Homo sapiens: one gene and its partners. The protein of the gene in region 1 purifies or fractionates together with the protein of each later gene. This does not show direct contact. Each region holds a gene or a part of one and is shown in the gene's direction. Other genes may lie near its edges. The genes, in order: ADGRG2, ARFGEF1, TUBGCP4 and INTS1.

What was found.
Region 2: the proteins of ADGRG2 (region 1) and ARFGEF1 purify together in Homo sapiens (affinity purification with mass spectrometry; one large-scale study listed by BioGRID and IntAct). This does not show direct contact.
Region 3: the proteins of ADGRG2 (region 1) and TUBGCP4 purify together in Homo sapiens (affinity purification with mass spectrometry; one large-scale study listed by BioGRID and IntAct). This does not show direct contact.
Region 4: the proteins of ADGRG2 (region 1) and INTS1 purify together in Homo sapiens (affinity purification with mass spectrometry; one large-scale study listed by BioGRID and IntAct). This does not show direct contact.

The regions. Positions count from the first base shown.
Region 1 is NC_000023.11:18,987,464-18,992,782, reverse strand, and holds the end of ADGRG2 (adhesion G-protein coupled receptor G2 isoform 1 precursor), read left to right. Parts: intron 1-1,734; coding exon 1,735-1,919; 3' UTR 1,920-3,476; downstream 3,477-5,319. UniProt on the Homo sapiens protein: Adhesion G-protein coupled receptor (aGPCR) for steroid hormones, such as dehydroepiandrosterone (DHEA; also named 3beta-hydroxyandrost-5-en-17-one) and androstenedione.
Region 2 is NC_000008.11:67,333,782-67,337,281, reverse strand, and holds part of ARFGEF1 (brefeldin A-inhibited guanine nucleotide-exchange protein 1), read left to right. Parts: intron 1-3,500. UniProt on the Homo sapiens protein: Promotes guanine-nucleotide exchange on ARF1 and ARF3. Promotes the activation of ARF1/ARF3 through replacement of GDP with GTP. Involved in vesicular trafficking.
Region 3 is NC_000015.10:43,372,707-43,379,194, forward strand, and holds part of TUBGCP4 (gamma-tubulin complex component 4), read left to right. Parts: intron 1-3,391; coding exon 3,392-3,520; intron 3,521-3,748; exon of another isoform or gene 3,749-3,796; coding exon 3,797-3,919; intron 3,920-4,307; coding exon 4,308-4,361; intron 4,362-5,140; coding exon 5,141-5,197; intron 5,198-6,488. UniProt on the Homo sapiens protein: Component of the gamma-tubulin ring complex (gTuRC) which mediates microtubule nucleation.
Region 4 is NC_000007.14:1,482,179-1,488,666, reverse strand, and holds part of INTS1 (integrator complex subunit 1), read left to right. Parts: intron 1-709; coding exon 710-907; intron 908-1,217; coding exon 1,218-1,347; intron 1,348-1,565; coding exon 1,566-1,745; intron 1,746-1,892; coding exon 1,893-2,042; intron 2,043-3,197; coding exon 3,198-3,377; intron 3,378-3,464; coding exon 3,465-3,569; intron 3,570-4,496; coding exon 4,497-4,664; intron 4,665-4,813; coding exon 4,814-4,925; coding exon of another isoform or gene 4,926-4,966; intron 4,967-5,959; coding exon 5,960-6,121; intron 6,122-6,488. UniProt on the Homo sapiens protein: Component of the integrator complex, a multiprotein complex that terminates RNA polymerase II (Pol II) transcription in the promoter-proximal region of genes.

The DNA.
Region 1 (5,319 bases):
CAGCTGATTTGACACAGCTACTTTTGATGCTTGACGGTGAGGATGGGGGTACATTTTAAGGCTGCCAAAATGGCTCAGTGTTTAATATCACATAATATGCATGTCAGATAACCATTCCTGACTCCTCAGTCCTTGCCCCAGCATCTGGGATAGATGAGGAATGGAATTGGCAATTTCAAAAAAGAAAGCTAGGGCTGGGCGCAGTGGCTCACACCTGTAATCCCAGCACTTTGGGAGGCTAAGTTAGGAGGATCACCTGAGGTCAGGAGTTCAAGACCAGCCTGGCCAACATGGAAAAACTCCATCTCTAATAAAAAATGTGAAAATCAACCAGACGTGGTGGCACACACCTGTAGTCCCAGCTACTCAGGAAGCTGAGGCAGGAGAATCGCTTGAACCCAGGAGACAGAAGTTGCAGTGAGCCTAGATCTCACCACTGCACTCCAGCATGGGCGACAGAACGAGACTCCGTCTCAACAACAACAAAAAAAGCTAGAAGTTTAATGATTTATTATGCCAGACCAAATTGTTCTTGCACCAAAATGTCCTCAAGCCGAAATGCCTAAATCCAAACAGCTGCCTCAGACAGTCACATGCCCTATTTGATCTGTGTCACAGATGGAGCTACGTTAACCATATTCATCACCTAGTTTGCATGAATATTACACAGTTCAGTTCTGAGCTGCCTTAGAGGGTGGGGTACCAGCAGCCATCTCATTTGGTACCCAGGACCACAAGGATCACAGTTTGGAAGCAACATCACACGTCAACTCCATTACTTCTGAGCTGTGTGACCTTGGGGAGAGCACTTAATTTCTGAAACCTTCGTTTCCTCATCTGCAAAATGGGGATAACAGTAGTACCCACCCTGCAGGGCTCTAAATGAGATAATAAAGTGTCCCAGTACTGTTATGATCATTGTTATCATAATCATGTCATGAACTATCAAATGGGCTTATTATTCAGCTTTGTGTATAGTCTCCCAATGGTCTAATGATCAGAAGGATGGTGCCAAGTAACTAGAGGAGGCCAGCACCTGTGCTCCCCTATAACTCAGGGCCTGCTTGGGGTGGGGAAGGCCCACGTCCAAACCAACAGTTACCCTTGAGTGCCCAGCTGCTCCCTGGCCTGGACTCTGAAGTTGGAATTGGTAGTTTCCTCTTGGGAATTTGTCCTGTCCTGATTTAGTCAGAGGAGCTGGTTTAATCTACAAGAGAGATGATTTCTTCTTGCCATGACTGTTGTAGCTGGTTGCTCTGGTTTCTCTGGTACAAAGTTTCATTTTATAGGAACCTAGGGAACCAAGAACTTCCTAAGGGTACATATGGGGATCTCTGTTAACATTAACCTTTTGGGAGACCAAAGTATTACCTTAGCTTATATTATACATATGCTGCTACTTGAAGTCAAAACATATCCAACCAGAGTTAGGAAGTGGGCCTTTTATTAATATATTACCTTGCTTCAGATTTTGACTGTTTCATTAAAAACCAAACAAAAAAAAAACTGCCATAGAGAACTGGTTTCTGAAGCAATCTCCACTTTGGTATGCTTACTTTGAGTGGCCTTAGGGAAGTAATGAAAAATAAATAAAATATGAACATATATCACAAATGTTTTTAAAAACATATTTTACAAATACATCTTTAAGAATAAAGCAATGTCTAAGTTTGTTTGCTTTTTAATGCTTTCTGTGGATACTTCATGCCACCCGCTTTGTGTTTCCTTATACAGGAAATGCTTCTACAGAGAGGAATGGGGTCTCTTTTAGTGTTCAGAATGGAGATGTGTGCCTTCACGATTTCACTGGAAAACAGCACATGTTTAACGAGAAGGAAGATTCCTGCAATGGGAAAGGCCGTATGGCTCTCAGAAGGACTTCAAAGCGGGGAAGCTTACACTTTATTGAGCAAATGTGATTCCTTTCTTCTAAAATCAAAGCATGATGCTTGACAGTGTGAAATGTCCAATTTTACCTTTTACACAATGTGAGATGTATGAAAATCAACTCATTTTATTCTCGGCAACATCTGGAGAAGCATAAGCTAATTAAGGGCGATGATTATTATTACAAGAAGAAACCAAGACATTACACCATGGTTTTTAGACATTTCTGATTTGGTTTCTTATCTTTCATTTTATAAGAAGGTTGGTTTTAAACAATACACTAAGAATGACTCCTATAAAGAAAACAAAAAAAGGTAGTGAACTTTCAGCTACCTTTTAAAGAGGCTAAGTTATCTTTGATAACATCATATAAAGCAACTGTTGACTTCAGCCTGTTGGTGAGTTTAGTTGTGCATGCCTTTGTTGTATATAAGCTAAATTCTAGTGACCCATGTGTCAAAAATCTTACTTCTACATTTTTTTGTATTTATTTTCTACTGTGTAAATGTATTCCTTTGTAGAATCATGGTTGTTTTGTCTCACGTGATAATTCAGAAAATCCTTGCTCGTTCCGCAAATCCTAAAGCTCCTTTTGGAGATGATATAGGATGTGAAATACAGAAACCTCAGTGAAATCAAGAAATAATGATCCCAGCCAGACTGAGAAAATGTAAGCAGACAGTGCCACAGTTAGCTCATACAGTGCCTTTGAGCAAGTTAGGAAAAGATGCCCCCACTGGGCAGACACAGCCCTATGGGCTCATGGTTTGACAAACAGAGTGGAGAGACCATATTTTAGCCCCACTCACCCTCTTGGGTGCACGACCTGTACAGCCAAACACAGCATCCAATATGAATACCCATCCCCTGACCGCATCCCCAGTAGTCAGATTATAGAATCTGCACCAAGATGTTTAGCTTTATACCTTGGCCACAGAGAGGGATGAACTGTCATCCAGACCATGTGTCAGGAAAATTGTGAACGTAGATGAGGTACATACACTGCCGCTTCTCAAATCCCCAGAGCCTTTAGGAACAGGAGAGTAGACTAGGATTCCTTCTCTTAAAAAGGTACATATATATGGAAAAAAATCATATTGCCGTTCTTTAAAAGGCAACTGCATGGTACATTGTTGATTGTTATGACTGGTACACTCTGGCCCAGCCAGAGCTATAATTGTTTTTTAAATGTGTCTTGAAGAATGCACAGTGACAAGGGGAGTAGCTATTGGGAACAGGGAACTGTCCTACACTGCTATTGTTGCTACATGTATCGAGCCTTGATTGCTCCTAGTTATATACAGGGTCTATCTTGCTTCCTACCTACATCTGCTTGAGCAGTGCCTCAAGTACATCCTTATTAGGAACATTTCAAACCCCTTTTAGTTAAGTCTTTCACTAAGGTTCTCTTGCATATATTTCAAGTGAATGTTGGATCTCAGACTAACCATAGTAATAATACACATTTCTGTGAGTGCTGACTTGTCTTTGCAATATTTCTTTTCTGATTTATTTAATTTTCTTGTATTTATATGTTAAAATCAAAAATGTTAAAATCAATGAAATAAATTTGCAGTTAAGATCTTTAAGTTTGGTAATTTTCACAAAGAAAAAACATCTGCAGTCTCTTTCCCTGGTGGCCTGGCATGGAAGTGGTGTAGGACATGCTGATTAAGACAAACACAATTGGCTGGGCATGGTGGCTCACACCTGTAATCCCAGCACTTTGGGAGGCTGACGCAGGTGGATTGCTTGAGTGCAGGAGTTGGAGACCAGCCCGGGCAGCACAGGGAGACCCCTGTCTCTACAAAAAATTAAAAATTAGTTAGTCATAGTGTTGTGTGCCTGTACTCCTAGCTACTCAGGAGGCTGAGGATGGAGGACTGCTTGAGCCTGGAAGTTTGGGGCTGCAGTGAACCACGATTGTGCCATTGCACTCCAGCTTAGGCGACAGAGCGAGACACCATCTCTTAAGAAGACAAACATAACAGTAACATCTTTTGGAAATCAGCAGGTACCCTGTGACTATGAAATTAGAGCAAGGGTTGTTCTGCCTCATGAGATCAGTTTCTGAGGTCTCCTTTCCCATTACTCTTTCAAGATTATCTCTTCAACACATTGCCTTTGGCCTGTAGGCAATGTACAAGACCCAATTCAGATCTCATCCAAGTATCTGCTTCCTCAGTGTCAAACAGGTAGGACTACTGAAAAGTGAGAACAGGATTTGGGATTTCTGCATTGCTGGTTAGCATGTGGGATCCCCAAATACGGGAAGCTGGCCTCACCCTGGTAAGAGGTCTCTGAGCAATCTCTTCTTCAAGGTCCTCAGCTCCCACAAAGATGCCGAGTACTAAATTCAAAGGAAGATGTGAGATCCTCTAGATTGGGAGAGGGGTGAGACCTCAGAAATCAATCCCCCAAAACAGATTATATAACCAAAATATACATAAAAGGATGCACAATGTCCAGTATCCTTTAGGTCCCACCCCCTTATTTTTCCTACTGTGTCTGTGCTGTGGTCCTTAAGCAGAATTCTCTCATCTATTTTTCTTACTTTAGACAGACGTACGGCAGGACAGAGAGTGTTTCTGAGAAGCATCCTCCTTTGGGTCTAAGATTGATCCCATGTTCTGAGACTCTATTGTAAGGAAACAGAGGTGGTGCCAATATTAGGAGGCAAGGAGTGTCAGGGCAGAGGCCAGTATTTAAAGAAGTATTTCCTCAAAATATTGGAGTAGTTTTTTTTTGTTTTGTTTTGTTTTTCCTCAAAACACACTGCAGTCATTAACCCCACAAAGGAAGTCTGCTGACTTCAGTGAGCAGCATCATGATCGTTCTTACTGAAAATGGTGAAGCAAGCCAGGCAAGCACCTGTAGTCCCAGCTACTTGGGAGGCGGAGGCAGGAGGATCGCTTGAGCCAGGAAATTGGAGTCCATCCTGGGCAACACAGAAAGACCTCCTGTCTTTAAAACAAACAAACAAAAAACGATGAAACAGCTTCACTTGGGATACTGGGTATGTCTAAGGAGGTCAGCTAGGAGTCAGTCGGTTTGTCAAAGGCCATTTAGACAAAGATTAATTTACAGCATAACCAATTCACAGAGTGGACTTGTTTGGTGTCATTTTGTCTCCATAACAGCATTTTAAGGACTAGTTTGTCTTTGTCTCTGCTCCTTGCTGTTCTAGTTGGAGTCCGAAGGAAAGGAAAAAGGAAAGACTGGGTAGACATAAGAACATAATCTTCAATTTGAAGAATTCTTATCAGTGTATACTTTTTTTTTCTTTTTTTTTTTTTTTTTTTGAGACAGAGTCTCGCTCTATCACCCAGGCTGGAGTGCAATGGTGCAATCTTGGCTCACTGCACTCTCCACTTCCTGGGTTCAAGCAATTCTCCTGCCTCAGCCTCTCGAGTAGCTGAGATTACAGGCACC
Region 2 (3,500 bases), on another chromosome or scaffold:
AGACAGTAAAACATTTTCATCCTGCCTTTTATATGTATTTTAGAATGTTTTAATGATAGAATTTTCAGATGATATAATAGGATATTTTCTACTGAGAATAACACAAAATAATTTCAATTTGTTTTGTCTGTTTTTTTTTTTTTTTTTTTTTTTGAGACGGCGTCACGCTCTGTCACACAGGCTGGAGTGCAGTGGCGCGATCCTGGCTCACTGCAAGCTCCGCCTCCCGAGTTCACGCCATTCTCCTGCCTCAGCCTCTCGAGTAGCTAATCTCGTGTAGCGCTACCGCGCCCGGCTGATTTTTTTTGTATTTTTATTAGAGATGGGGTTTCACCGTGTTAGCCAGGATGGTCTCGATCTCCTGACCTTGTGATCCTCCTGCCTTGGCCTCCCAAGGTGCTGGGATTACAGGCGTGAGCCACCGCGCCCGGCCTGCCTTGTCAGGTTTTTTGCAGGGAGGTTTTTTTATCAAAGAAATGAGCCTTTCACTTGTCTGGTTCTTTTCCTGGAATAGGAACTTTGTGGATGTAGTGAAAGATCTCAAGGTGAAGTTGAGATCCTCAACTTAGAGCCTTTAGGTGGGCCCTAAATCCAGTGAATGGTGTCCTTTTAAGGAAGAGGAAGGGACACAGTCACATACAAAGGAAAAAGTCCATGTGAAAATGGAGACGAGATCAGTTACTGCTGCCACATGCTATGGAATGCCAGAAGCCACCAGAAGTAGGAAGAGGCAAGGAGGGATTCTTCCCTTTGGATGTAGCATAGCTCTGCTGTGACCTTGATTTTAGATTTTGGGCCACCAGAACTATGAGAGGAAATTTCTGTTGTTTTAAGCCACCAAATTTATGGTAATTTATTAAGGCAGCCTTAGGAAATGAATGCAAGTTCCCTTTTATCCTAACTTTTCAGACCCATTTTGATTTCTTTATTCAAGTTTCCACTTACAGAGTCTACTGTACATATGTTTACACAATCAGATCCTGTCTTTGGCTCATCTCTGATTGTTTCATGAATCTAGAAAGCAGTTATTCTGAGGCTTTAGTGTGTTATAAGTAGAGGCTCTTGAAAAGCTTCTTAAAAGGTCTGGGCTCAAGTATTTAAGAATATTTAAAAAGTTTTGTGTTCTGCTTTTGATATTTTGTTTTGCTTAGACTTAGACTTGATGTAACTAAATTTGTTTATATAACCTATGTTATCTTTTCATTCAGAAAAGTCTTTGAAAATCTTTAAAATGGCCGGGCGCGGTGGCTCACGCCTGTAATCCCAGCACTTCGGGAGGCCGAGGCAGGTGGATCATGAGGTCAGGCGTTCGAGACCAGCCTGGCCAGCATAGTGAAACTCCGTCTCTACTAAAAATACAAAAAGTTAGCCGGGCGTGGTGGCAGTGGGCGCCTGTAATCCCAGCTATTTAGGAGGCTGAGGCAGGAGAATCGCTTGAACCTGGAAGGCGGAGGTTGCAGTGAGCCAAGATTGTGCTACTGCACTCCAGCCCGAGAGACAGTGCGAGAGTCCGTCTCAAAAAAAAAAAAAGAAAATCTTTAAAATATTTCATATTACCACTGGCGTGTCTTTAGGAAACGCCATGTGAGGCTATTAATTTTTCTTAACAAAAATGTGTACATTGAGACTTCATTTAATCAGCTGTTTAACAATCCTCATCTGTCAGAACTTTGCTAAGAAATAATAAAAATATAAGCAGTCAAAGTACATATTTTGAAGGCCAAGCACTTTATATAGAAGAGAATCTCTATGGCTTTTACTCAGTCTGTATGCTTTTATAATTCCAGTAAGTTTGGTAATTTGATATTTTTTATAAACGAATCCTTCAAATCATTTTCAAAAGTGTAACTACAACAATAAAATTTACTGTGATACGGGGCCCGGCGTGGTGGCTGGCGCCTGTGATCCCAGCACTTTGGGAGGCTGAGGCGGGCAGATCATGAGGTGAGGAGATCGAGACCATCCTGGCTAACACAGTGAAACCCCGTCTCTACTAAAAATACAAAAAATTAGCCAGTCGTAGTGGCGGGCGCCTGTAGTCCTAGCTACTTGGGAGGCTGAGGCAGGAGAATGGTGTGAGCCCGGGAGGCGGAGCTTGCAGTGAGCCGAGATTGCGCCACTGCACTCCAGCCTGGGTGACAGAGTGAGACTCTGTCTCAAAAAAAAAAAAAAAAAAAAAATTTACCGTGATACTCTTAGCTGAAGATAAATAACTACTGTTAACTTTTTGAAAAACAACTTTCTGATAAATGATTTACATACTATAGTATTTACTTTTTTTGAGTGTAATGATTTTTGGTAAATTTACTGAATTATGCAGCCATCAGCATAAATCCAGTTTTAGAACATTTCTATTACCTCAATAAAATCTGTAGTGCCCTTGTTGTCATCCCTAGCTTCTGGCATTCACTAATCTATTTTCTGTCTTTAGAGTTGCCTTTTCTGGACATTTCATGAAATGCAGTTATACACAGGTGGTCGTTAGTGTCTGGTTTCTTTCAGTATGTTTTTGAGGTTCATTCATGAAGTTTGTATCCACACTTCATTTCCTTTTATTGATGAATAGCATTCCATTGTTTAGATATCCTATATTTTGTTTATCCATTTACCAGTTGATGGATATTTGGGTTGAATGAATAATACTGCCATGAATATTTGTGTATAAGTCTTTGTGTGGACGTAAACTGTTATTTGTCCTAGGTAGACAAACTGGGAAGGGAATTGGTGGGCCACTTGATAAATTTATGTTTAACTTTTTAAGAAACTGCTAAATTCTTTTCCAGCCTACATACCCACCAGCAGTGTATGAGGCTTCCCGTTTCTTCAAATTCTCACCAATATTTGTTACTGCCTTTTTATTTTTAGCCATCCTAGTTGTTATGATGAAGTGTTACTTCATTGAAACACTGTTAACTTTTTGAAGTACAGATTAAATATCCTTTATCAGAAATGCTTGGGATCAGAAATGTTTTCAATTTTGTTTTTTTTTTTTTTTTTGGACTTTGGAATATTTGCATATACATAATGAAATATCTTGGGGATGAGATTGAAGTCTAAACACAAAATTTACTAATGTTTCACATCCACCTTATACACAATCCAAAGGTAATTTTATGCACTATTCTTTTTTTTTTTTTTTTTTTTTGAGACGGAGTTTAGCTATTGTTGCTCAGGCTGGAGTGCAGTGGTGCGATCTCAGCTCACTGTAACTTCCGCTTCCCAGGTTCAAGTGATTCTCCTGTCTCAGCCTCCCAAGTAGCTGGGATTACAGGCATGCGCCACCATGCTCAGCTAATTTTGTATTTTTAGTAGAGATGGGGTTTTGCCATGTTGGCCAGGCTGGTTTCAAACTCTGACCTCAGGTGATCCGCTGACCTTGGCCTCCCAAAGTGCTGGGATTACAGGCATGAGCCACTGCACCTGGTCTTATGCACTGTTGTTAATTTTGTGCATGAAACAAAATTTTGACTGTGTTTTGACTGTGACCCATCACGTGAGAT
Region 3 (6,488 bases), on another chromosome or scaffold:
CTACCATTTCATCCTCAAGGTCTCAGCTTTAAAGTCACTTTGTCAGAAAAACTTTCTCTGAGCACATCTTTAAGCATCCTCCCCTGATGCCATTATTCTCCATCAACTTGTTTATTTCCCTTGTAGGATTTGTCACAATTCATAATGTATTGTTGTTACCTGTTTTTAGCCTTTCTCCCGCATAGATTGCCCCTGGGAGCGAAGACCAGTGGTCTTCTTCATTCATCTACCCAGAGCACCTAGCACAGTTTCTGCCACATAGCAGGTGTTTAGGTATTGATGGAAGAAAAGAAGACAAAGATGGCAAATATTACATAATTTCTGCAGAGCAGTGTCTTTTACATTTGAGTAAAGGGAAAAGTTGTCATGAGTGCCAAGTGTTAATGAAAATTATTTTATTATATTGAATATGTATATACATAAGCTAGGTATAAACTCAAGCATAATACTCTTAAACAACTATAAAATCAAATATTTTTATAAATTAAAAGTAAACAAAACTACCAAATCAATAAGTTCAAATGACCATTATTCTAATGCAGGATTTCTCAGCCTGTTCCTATAACTGTGTTATATAGAATGGTATCAGTAACTTCGAGTTATTATTTGCTGTTTCAGAATAATTAGATATTGAACTTTTCGAAAACTCTGCCAACAAGAAACGCTCAAATGCCAATTTTAATAGTAGTATCACTTGATAACTGGTAGAGCTGTCTTGTTAATAATATAAAATTGCTTATGTGTATTGAGCACTAGCTATGTGGTTGGGATATGTGCTTTACACATGTATTAACTTATTTAATCCTCACAATTATTTTCTTCAGTTTATAGGTATGAAAACAGGCACAGACAGGTATAGTAACTTGCCTAAGCTTTCAAGCAAGTAAGAGGCAACTCAGGGATTCAAACCCAGGCAGTTGGGCTCCAGAGACCAGGTTCTTTTTTTTTTTTTTTTTTTCCGAGATGGAGTCTCGCTCTGTCGCCCAGGCTGGAGTGCAGTGGTGCAATCTCGGCTCACTGCAAGCTCCACCTCCTGGGTTCACGCCATTCTCCTGCCTCAGCCTCCCGAGCAGCTGGGACTACAGGCGCCTGCCGCCACACCCGGCTAATTTTTTTGTAGTTTTTTTAGTAAAGATGGGGTTTCACCGTGTTAGCCAGGATGGTCTCGATCTCCTGACCTCGTGATCCGCCCACCTCGGCCTCCCAAAGTGCTGGGATTACAGGCGTGAGCCACTGCGCCCGGCAAGAGACCAGGTTCTTAAGCACCGTGTTGTGCAACCTCTTAAGTTACTAACTTGAAGATGTGATTAGCATTGTGTCATTAAAATCTACATTAATTGGATTCCTAATCAATTTTCTATGGACTTGGTAACAGAAAAATTCTTCTTCGCCTATTTGTTACCACATTTACTGTCATATAAAATGGCATCCACATATAATCCATATTATATATCCATCCATATAATATGCTAAGTTCCTTTGGAGCAGTAATTGTATCTGATTTTGTTCACTCTTTTATCTCAAAGTATTAGCACAGTACCTGGGATATAGTAATGGAAATGTAAAATGGTACAGCCATTGTGGAAAATGGTATGGCAGTTCTTCAAAAAATTAAATAAAGGCCAGGCACAGCGGCTGACACTTGTGATCTCAGCACTTTGGGAGGGTGAGGCTGGAGGATCAGTTAATGCCAGGAGTTTGAGGCTAGCCTGCGCAACAGAGCAAGACTCCATCTCTACAAAAAAAAAATTTTTAATTAGCTGGGCATGGTGACACATGCCTGTAGTCCTAGCTACTCTGGTGGCTGAGGTGGGAGAATTGGTTGAACCTAGGGGTTCAAGGTTACAGTGAGCTATGAACCCACCACTGTATTCCAGTCTGGGTGACAGAGTGAAACCTTGTCTCTAAAAAAAAAAATTAAATATAAAATTCCCATACAATCTAGCAGTTCTACTTCAGGGTATATCCCAAAAGAAGTGAAAGCAGGAACCCAACAGATATTTGTACACCCGTGTTCACCAAGCATTATTCACAATCGCTGAGAGGTGGAAGCAAGTGTCAGTGCAGGGACGAATAGGTAATTGAGATGTGGTATATACACACAAGGGAATATTGTTCAGCCTTAAAAAGGAAGGAAATTCTGGCATGTGCTACAACATGGATGAGCTGAAATAAGCCAGTCACAAAAGGACAAATAATGATTCCACTTTTTTTGAGACAGAGTCTCGCTCTGTTGCCCAGGCTGGAGGGCAGTGGTGCAATCTCAGCTCGCTGCAACCGCCGCCTCCCGGGTTTAAGCAGTTCTCATGCCTCAGCCTCCCAAGTAGCTGGCATTACAGGCGCCCACCACCACGCCTGGCTAATTTTCGTATTTTTAGTAGAGACAGGGTTTCATCATGTTGGCCAGGCTGGTCTTGAACTCCTGACCTCAGGTGATCCACCTGCCTCGGCCTCCCGAAATGCTGGGATTACAGGCGTGAGCAATTGTACCCGACCTGAGTGATTCCACTTATATGAGGTAGCTAGAGTAGTCAAAGTCAGAGGCAGTAGAGTGGTGTTTGGCAGGGGCTGGATACGGAGTTTCATTTGGGGCAAACAAAAAAGTTCTGGAGATGGATGGTGGTGCTGGTTGCACAACAGTGTGAATGTTCTTCATACCACTGAACTATATACTTAAAATAGCTAAAATGGTAGATTTTATTATACGTATTTTACCACAGTATTTTTAAAAAGTTGGTTGAAGGAATATATTTTCCCACTACTTTTTTCTACCTGAACTGCTGTGAAACCTTTGTATATAGCATATTAGGCTATCATTTGGCTTTCATTTAAATTAAAAATACAAATGTAAATATGGACACTAAATATATATGGCCAGTTATAAGGTGCATTTACAGATAATAGGTATGCTTAATTTTAGATTTTTACTGGAATGAAAACAATGAAAACTTCTATAGGGAATTTGTAAATCCTAAGAATATGTCTGAGAAACCCATGGAGTCTGCAGACCCCCATTTGAGCAATATTGCTAAAGAGACTTTGTTGCAACCAGGTCAAAACCCCCATATCCTTAGAGACCATCCCTAGAAGATTGCTTAAGAAGCAGGTAATAGCGGCTGCTTCTGGGGTGGTTGACTTATTTTTAATGTACACCATTTTATATTGTTTAAATTATTTAGCATGTGTTACCTATTTTAAGAAGCAAATAATTGGGTCAGGGATAGGGAACCCCTTTGAAGTGCTTTGGAAATACATTGTTATCCAGAACTTAACACCTTTAAGTGGACATCTTGAGAAAGAAAACGATAAATGTGTAGTATGAAGCGTTTGAAGCACCTGAAAGTTGGGGCAGCGACTGGCGGTGTTTTCGGCAGTGTTCCTCTTCCTGCAGGTATCGCAGGACTTCCCTTTCCTCCACCCCAGTGAGACCAGTGTCCTGAATCGACTCTGCCGGCTCGGCACAGACTATATTCGCTTCACTGAGTTCATTGAACAGTACACGGGCCATGTGCAACAGCAGGTGGGTCCTGTTCTCTGTGGGTGTACACCTCTAGAGGGCAGGAGCTATGTCAAGCTTTCACCTCTAGAGGGCAGGAGCTATGTCAAGCTTTCAGTGAATTTATCGGTAATTCATGTGAAATAAGTTATGGATTTCTCATCACTAGAAATATTCAAGTGAAGGCAAGGCCTCTAATTGGTTTGTTTGTATAACTTTTAAAAGAAACAAGCCTGATAATGTCTTTCTCAGGTTTCAGGGCCTGAGCTGAGAAGTTGGCTTCTGTTTGTTTGATTTCAGGATCACCATCCATCTCAACAGGGCCAAGGTGGGTTACATGGAATCTACCTGCGGGCCTTCTGCACAGGGCTGGATTCTGTTTTGCAGCCTTATCGCCAAGCACTGCTTGATTTGGAACAAGAGGTAAGAAGGAGGAGATATAGGAAACACCTCTGGGACAGTAGATTAGGGCATGTTCTTGAATCTGAAATGCCCTTTGATAAGATCAGGTAGTTAAGAGTGAGCAGTTGCCTGCATGGCTGGAAGGTACAGTGTTCTCTCAGTGATTGCCCAACCTGTGATCAGAGTGGCTTACAGATCATGGCAAAGACTCTTTAGTGAGTTTATAAGAGCCCTGGCTTGGTTTCTTTATGGCCCGAAAATCAGGATTAATAACCTGATTAAATTATCAGTTCTCGATAGCCTAAAATTAACACTTAAGCCCATCATGAGATTCTCTTCTCATTTTCATAGATCAAATAGATTTGAGATATTTTGTGTGGAGCTCTAATCACAAAGTTTTTTATTGCAGTTCCTGGGTGATCCCCATCTCTCCATATCACATGTCAACTACTTCCTAGACCAGGTATGCTGCCCAAATAACCAAATGCCTTGCAATCTGTTGATAGTGTTAGAATAATCTAATTTATGGTACTGTTTTTGAGAACTTTTTTTCTTCTGGATTCAGAGCCTAACATTTTATATTTTGTGCATTTTGTATGTTTTACTAGATCAAAACTGTTTAAAGATTTCCAAATATAGTTAAAACTTAATGTCTGATATTAACGCTAATGTTACTGCTCTATATGGACATCAGTATTAACAAGTATGCCAGCCTCAGAAATAGAAACTGCTTCCCGACTGGGCATGGTGGTACACACCTCTAATCCCAGCACTTTGGGAGGCCGAGGTGGTTGGATCACTTGAGGTCAGGTGTTGGAGACCAGCCTGGCCAAAATGGTGAAACCCTGTCTCTACTAAACATACAAAAATTAGTCGGTTGTGGTGGCGTGCACCTGTAGTCCCAGCTACTTGGGAGGCTAACGTTCTGAATCCAGGGGTGGAGGTTGCAGTGAGCTGGGATCCTACCACTATACTCCAGCCTGGGTGACAGAGTGAGACCCTGTCTCAAAAAAAAAAAAAAAAAGAAAAAAGAAAAAAAAGAAACTGCCTCTCTCTGCCATCCTCTTCCTATCTGCAGCGAACCTCCACATCAAATTGCCTTAGGATGCTGGATCTTGACTGTTCTGTGGTATTGCCATTTTATCTTAAGTTGAACTATTTAGAAACAAAAGCATTTCCCAAGTTGATTTTTTTTCCCTTACATTTGATTACATACCCTTCTAATTATTCTCTACTTTGCAGTTCCAGCTTCTTTTTCCCTCTGTGATGGTTGTAGTAGAACAAATTAAAAGTCAAAAGGTGAGAACTTTCCTTATTCCTTTTGCTTTGCTAAGCACTGAGGGAATATTACTAATTAATTTTGCTTTACATTATTTTTCGAAGACCCTAGTTTTTAGTAGTTTTTATTTATTCATTCATTTAACAATATCTGCTTGGTTATCATGTTAAGTGTCAGGAATGCAAAAGTATGACTCTGCCTTTAAACACCTCCTGGTCCAGAAGGTAGAGGAAATGTTCATAGATGTTCCCAAGAATGTTGTTGGGGTAAGAAAAAAAGTGCTGTGGATGTTTGCAGGTGAGAGGAACCTGCAGTAAGGTTTTAGAACTGTTGGGTGTGAAGCAGAAAGTTAATTCTTAGGAAGAAGGTAATAGGTTTATGGTTAGTGTGCTGGCAGTTTTCTGAGAATTTTGAGATCAGTGAGTGAAAGCCAGATGTTTAATAAATATGCCTATTCTTATCACAAGTTTTTATCAGGTGTATTGAGAAGTTAGGAGAATGTCTTTCTGGGCAGAGTTAATAAGTCTGAGGAATAAATGCTTTGAGATTTCATATTAGAAGAATCTGCTGTCCTATTGAATTGGTCCACAATTGGACCAAGTGGACAAATGGATTAAACATCTTTAGCTCAAGTCGTCATTTTTTTTAAGCTCTTTATTTGTGCCTTAGCTTATTAGGGGTGTTCATTTTCATTAATGTAACTAGTAAACCAGTTAATCTGCCACATTGCTGCATCATTTTTAACTGTGTAAGTGTAGAAACAGTGCTCTGCTATGTTCATGCTGTGCCAGCAAAGCCAGTGGTGGGTGCTCATTGGCCCTTCAAAGCTGATTGTCCTCATCAAATAACAACATCCAGCTTTTACTGTCACTGGCTGTGTACTAGGCACTGTGCTAAGTGCTTTAAATACATTATCACACACAATCCACTAAAGGGCTAAGTTGGTTAAGGGGTGTGCCCAGTGTCACACAGATAGTAGTAAATGGGTTTATATCCCAGCTCTATCTGGCTCCAAAGAGTGTGCTCTTAACCACTAGATTAAACTATCTCCCAAAATAAAAGGAGACATTCTAGGCAAATAGAGTTAATGAGGACAGCATAAGGGAGCCAGGCCTAGCTGCACGTCTCAGTTGGCCTTCAACTTCCGCTGGCTATAGGAAGGAGAGTGGAAAATAGGGGGATTGCAGATGGCTGAATCTTCCTCCCTGCCAGAATAGTGGTAGAGAAACTAGTGTACCAAGGCTCTTCAGAGTTTTTAAAATCAGGTGGTCAAAATTCTAGGTTTGGGTTGAGAATGGAGATTGATTGCAG
Region 4 (6,488 bases), on another chromosome or scaffold:
AGTGTGTGTGGCCCTGGTATTGTGGGGACCAGGTGTGTGTGTGTGGCGTTGGGATCGGGTACGTTTGGGGCCGTTGCACTGTGAGGACTGGGCATGTGTCTGCCCATGGTTTTGTGGGGACTGGGTGTGTGTCTGCCTGTGTGTTGTGGGGAGTGGGTGCGTGTGTGTCCTGAGGTGGGAGGCACAGCTGCTTCCCCCCACCTCTGAAGGAGCAGACTGACTTTGGGGCCTTGGGGACAGAGCTCAGATTAGAGCGGCCATGGGGAGCTGGGTTTTGGAACACGCCGAAGCCACGTGTGCCTCTGTAGGCAAGAGAGTCCCTGCCCTGCAGGTCTGTCCCTGGATGGGGCGGGCAGAGCCTACATGGCTGTCAAACTAGGCTATGCTCCCAGCGTAGGTGGCGTGGAAGGGGAGGTGGCCTGGGAGGAGGCCAGGTTCTGACACCGCTGGCCTTGGCTCTGGTGAGGGCAGGCGTGCTGCCTGCGGAGGACGAGGCAGTGGCTGGACCGCGCCTCTGGGCAGCGCTGCGGCTTCTCGTCTCAGCTCTGACAGCCCCATGGATGCTACCGGGCGCCCTGTGCTCCTGACTGCTGTGCAGCAGAGGCAGCAGCAGCCGTAGGGGTTTTACCCTCCTTGACCCTGAGCGTGGCCCACTGGGAGTGAGCCCTTCATGGGGGGCAGGGTGACACGCTCCCCCGTCTGGCCCTAGCAACTACTCCTACCCACCGTGCACCCTGACGGATGAGGAGACCCGGACGGAGATGCTGAACCGTGAGCTGCAGACCGCCCAGCGGGAGAAGCAGGAGATCCTGGCCTTCGAGGGGCACCTGGCGGCCGCGTCCACCAAGCAGACCATCACTGAGAGCAGCAGCCTCCTCCTGTCGCAGCTCACCAGCCTGGACCCCCAGTACGCAGCCCACACAGCCCCGCCCTGCGCCTGCCGTCGGGACCTGTGGGTGGTTGGTGTGGGTGGGACAGAGGCTGAAGGAGCAGGCGGAGCCGACCGCACTGCGGCAGAACCTGAAAGGCCTGTGGAGCCCCGTCCCCGCGTCCCTGGCTTACTGCTGTGGGGCCAGGCCTTGGGGACATCCCAGGTCAGGATGGGTTGCCCGTCTCGGGCTGTCGGCTGCCCCTCGAAGCAGGGATGGGAGGAGGAGGGGTTCTGGGGGTGATCCGCTCAGGGCGTGCTGACGCACCGTGTCCCCTGTGGCCCTCAGGGGGCCCCCCCGGAGGCCTCCCCCTCACATCCTGGATCAAGTGAAAAGCCTCAACCAGTCCCTCCGCCTCGGGCACCTCTTGTGCCGCAGCCGAAACCCTGACTTTCTCCTCCACATCATCCAGCGGCAGGTGAGTGCCGAGGCTCCAGGAGGTAGAGATGGTGGTCTTGGGAGGCCCGGAACCTTCCGGAGGCCTTGGTGGCCAGAAGAGGGCAGGACACACCTGGATGCGGGGCCCATGAGCTGGCTGCTGCGTGTCGCCCTTTCCGGCTCCGCGGTCACCCGGGGGGCTGGCGGCAGGTGTTGGGCCTGGAAGGTGCTGAGCGGGCGCCACTGTCGCCTGCCCAGGCCTCCTCGCAGTCCATGCCCTGGCTGGCGGACCTGGTACAGTCCAGCGAGGGCTCCCTGGACGTGCTGCCCGTGCAGTGTCTGTGCGAGTTCCTGCTGCACGATGCTGTGGACGATGCTGCTTCCGGGGAGGAGGACGACGAGGGCGAGAGCAAGGAGCAGAAGGCCAAGAAGCGGCAGGTCAGGGCCGCCCACCCCTCAGCCCCCCCGCCTCTCACCCCGCACCCCTGTCAGGGCAACCCATGCCTGAGCCCACCAGCCGCGCACCCCACGTCCTACCCGCCTGGCCTGTCACCTGCACCCCTGAGAGCCCCTTCCTCCCTGCAGAGGCAACAGAAGCAGCGGCAGCTGCTGGGCCGCCTGCAGGACCTGCTACTGGGCCCGAAGGCTGATGAGCAGACCACGTGTGAGGTGCTGGACTACTTCTTGCGGCGCCTCGGCTCCTCCCAGGTGGCCTCCCGCGTGCTGGCCATGAAGGTGAGGTGGTGGGCGGGTCTTTCTGCGCACGCTCTTCATGTTTAAAATGAGTAGGCTGGGGACCGGGCACGGTGGCTCACGCCTGTCATCCCAGCACTTTGGGAGGCCAAGGCAGGCAGATTACCTGAGGTCAGGAGTTGGAGACCAGCCTGGCCAACATGGTGAAATCCCGTCTCTATTAAAAATAGAAAAAATTAGCTGGGCGTGGTGGAGGGGGCCTGTAATCCCAGGTACTCTGGAGGCTGAGGCAGGAGACTCGCTTGTACCTAGGAGGCGGAGGTTGAGGTGAGCCAAGATTGTGCCACTGTACTCCAGCCTGGGCAACAAGTGAAACTCCATCTCAAAAAAAAAAAAATAAATAAATGAAAAATAAAGAAGTAAAATGAGTAGGCCTGGGGCAGTGGCTTGCTCTTGTCATCCCAGCACTTTGGGAGGCCGAGGTGGGAGCATCACTTGAGTCCAGGAGTTTGAGACCAGCCTGGGCAACACAGGAAGATCCTCTCTCTACAAAAACTGAAAAAATTAGCCAGGTGTGGTAGTGTGTGCCTGTGTTCCCAGCTACTTGGGAAGCTGAGGCAGGAGGATCACTTGAGCCCAGGAGTTTGAGACCAGCCTGGGCAACATAATGATACCCATCTCTACAAAAAATAAAAGATGAGAAAAATGAGCTGGGTGTGGCAGCATGCACCTGTGGTCCAAGCCACTTGGGAGGCTGAGATGGGAGAATCACTTGAGGCTGTAGTGAGCTGTGATCACACCACTGCACTCCAGCCTAGGCAACAGAATGAGACCCTGTCTTAAAAAGGAAAAGTAAAAATCAAATGAGTGTTCAGTGCACTCTGACTGTATTTTAAGTTCCTTCCCTGCGTAGGAAGGATGCGCTAGTGAAACGTGAAGGTGGACCCTGCCGCCTGCCTGGTGTTCCTTTCTTGCTGGTGACGGGAGGGTCCAGAGTGGCTTCAGGAACTTGAACAGAAGCATTTAACAGAAAGAGCTCAGTCTCGTTTTTCCCTTTTACCTGCGGCCTCTCCCGTGGGAAGCAAGCGCCACATTCTCCTCGGGGCTCTGAGGGCACCATGCGTGTGCTCCCGGGGCCAGGGTGAGACCCTGCCTGCACTGCCGAAAGCCGGCCCAGCTCATGAGTGTCTGCCACAGGGTTTGTCGCTGGTGCTTTCGGAGGGCAGCCTGCGGGACGGGGAGGAGAAGGAGCCCCCCATGGAGGAGGATGTGGGGGACACAGATGTGCTGCAGGGCTATCAGTGGCTGCTGCGGGACCTGCCTCGCCTGCCTCTGTTCGACAGCGTCAGGAGCACCACAGCCCTGGCCCTGCAGCAGGTGAGGGCGCTGACCGGGGCCGCGGCAGGGAAAGATGAGAGGGCCGCAGCCCTGCCCTGTTGCCGCTCAGACCACCCTCCCCTCCAGGCAATCCACATGGAGACTGATCCCCAGACCATCAGCGCCTACCTGATCTACTTGTCCCAGCACACGCCTGTGGAGGAGCAGGCCCAGCACAGCGACCTGGCCCTGGTGAGGCAGCAGGGTCAGCCAGCAGTGTGGCCCTGGGGAGGGGACGGGGCCAGCCGGCAGTGTGGCCCTGGGGAGGGGACGGGGCCAGCCGGCAGTGTGGCCCTGGGGAGGGGACGGGGCCAGCCGGCAGTGTGGCCCTGGGGAGGGGACGGGGTCAGCACAGAGACCCTGCCCTGGGGAGGGTAAGGGGCCAGTGGTGCAGTGCCCTGGGCTGGCGGCTTCTTGGGCCACAGGGAGGCATTGAGGGTGGGAGGGCCGTCACGGCTGCTGTGCTGGGGCTTCTATGACCCCGTGGCCACCTGTGTCCCTTCCTTAGTCACCACTCACTCCCTGGAGCCTTTCTCCCCAGACCCTGAGGATGCGAAGCCACGGGGGTGAGGGTGCCTTGTTCACAGCAGGGTGGAATCTGAGCCATCAGCCTTCTCCCCGACGCCAGGAGGGTTTGGGCTGTGGGCCCAGGTCGCTGGGCACCTGCCCGCTGTCCTCAGCATCTCTAGCTCACATGTGTGGCGCTGACTCCCATCTTCTCTCCTGGGTGCTGTCCTTCTCTGCTGGGCTGCTTCTCACTTTGCATCACGGTTCTCTTGTCCACAACCTGCGCTGTGACCTAGTGAAAGTTGGTGGCCCGAGTCCTCAGGGAATGAGCGATAGGTGAACAGATGGTGGCTGCCGGGCAGAGGGCAGCAGCGTCCGCTTTCAGGGCCTGGTCATTGTCCCTGGCTGTGAGAGTCGTGTCCTCCCTCCCCCCTGGAGAGTCCGACCCAGCTCTGGTCGTCTTCCCTGGCGGCCTGCGGCTGAGTGAGGGTCTGCGGTGCCGCGGGCCCTGCTTAAGATCCCAGTGAGAGCGTGCCTGCGACGAGGTCACCCCAGCTGGCCGGAGAGCAGAGCTGTCTCGGAGCCTCTGACGCCCCCCTGTCCACACACCAGGACGTGGCCCGGCTGGTCGTGGAGCGCTCCACCATCATGTCCCACCTCTTCTCGAAGCTCTCCCCGAGTGCCGCGTCGGACGCCGTGCTGAGCGCTCTGTTGTCCATCTTCTCACGCTACGTGAGGCGCATGCGGCAGAGCAAGGAGGGCGAGGAGGTCTACAGCTGGGTGAGGGCGAGGAGGTCTACGGCCGGGTGAGGGCGAGGAGGTCTACGGCTGGGTGAGGCTGCACGGCACGCTCGGTGCCAGCTGGGTACCCTCGGCGCTGGCTCAGGGTCCCTGAACCTTACGGCCTGACTCCACCTCTTTTCCCACAGTCGGAGTCTCAGGACCAGGTCTTCCTACGCTGGAGCAGCGGGGAGACAGCCACCATGCACATCCTCGTGGTCCATGCCATGGTGATCCTGCTGACGCTGGGCCCGCCTCGAGGTGAGCCGCCACAGGCCCCGGGAGGGGCAGCTTCGTGCCAGGTGGGCCACAGCCCTGACCACACCCAGCGGCTTCCGCATCCTTGCCTTGCTTCTGGGCGGGAAGCCCCCCAGCCCTTCAACCCTGTGTCCTGGCTTCTCTCCTAAAGAGGAGGCTGCAGTCCGTCCCGCGTGTCTCTGAGCACTTGGTGGACGTGTGGGAGATCCCCACGTGGTGGGACCTCCCAGCCTGTAGAGCCCTGAGCTGGAGGGCCTGGTACAGCCTGGGGTCAGAGTCCTCACTGCCCCAGCCTAACCGTGTAGGCCTGCGGTGCCTGGGAGGCGGCAAACTCGGGATTTCACCGTGTGGAGGTGCGACATGAGGCTGCCAGGCAAGTGGGTCCTCTCCCCGGGGCCCAGGCGAGTGACCCTGAGGACGCTCTGGCCAGCGCAGTGTCTGGAACCCAGCGCCTACCCAGCCGTGCCCTCTGCGGCCGCAGCCTTCCCCTTTACTCCTGGCTGACACCATGAACTGCTCCCACGTTCACCCCGTTGTGTCTGTCAGTGGGGGAAGGGGGCGGAACCCTCATGCTGGGGTTCGGGTGGACGTGGGTGGGTGGTGACCCCTGTTGGGAGGCAGACACAGTCACAGGCGTCGCCCTTGGGAAGGGCAGCCGGAGAAGCTGGCCCTGTGTGGGCCTGGGCCTGTGGGGTTTCCCAGTGGCTTTGCGGAGCCAGAGAGCTGGATGGGACCTGGTCCAGCCAAGCAAAGCCCCGAGGGCAGGGGCTGGATGGGGACACGCACATGTCCCCTTGGCCACGACAAAATGGCAGTGATGCTGCTTGCCTTCCTGCAGCATCTGTGAGGATCAAATGCGTGCACCTACGCAAAGCATCCGCACATAGCAAGTGCTCACCTAGCACAGGAGCCCCGTGCTCCTCCCAAGTCTCAGTTTCCTTCTCGGGAGAGGAGGTGCCTCTAGCCTTGGCACCAGCGGTGCTTGGGGCTGGGCCCCGGTGGGTCTGAAGGCTGCTCACCCGTTGTCCTTCCTGAAGCCGACGACAGCGAGTTCCAGGCGCTGCTGGACATCTGGTTTCCGGAGGAGAAGCCACTGCCCACCGCCTTCCTGGTGGACACATCGGAGGAGGCGCTGCTGCTTCCTGACTGGCTGAAGCTGCGCATGATCCGTTCTGAGGTGCTCCGCCTGGTGGACGCCGGTACGGTCCAGGCTGGGCTTGGGCAGGGGCTGCTGACTCAGGGGTCCCGGGCCCCTTGCCTGCTCCTTGTGGGCCTGGGCAGCCTCCGGCTGTGGCAGAGGAGAAGACTGGCCGGGTAGCCTCAGGGGATCCTGCAGACCATATGTCCTGGCCACAGCAGGCTGTGCTGGACCCTGGGAGGAGACCTAGGGCAGCCTGTGCTGGCCCCGTCCGAGAGGGTCTTACTGTCAGGCTCAGGGGTCTAGAGTGAGAAACAGGTCCTCGATGGAAAAAAGAGAAAGTGGTCTGGGGTTGGAGAGGAGGAGGAGAAGTGGTGGGGCCTCTGGGTGGGTCCCTGAAGGATTTGGGGGTTGGAGCTGCAGCCGGG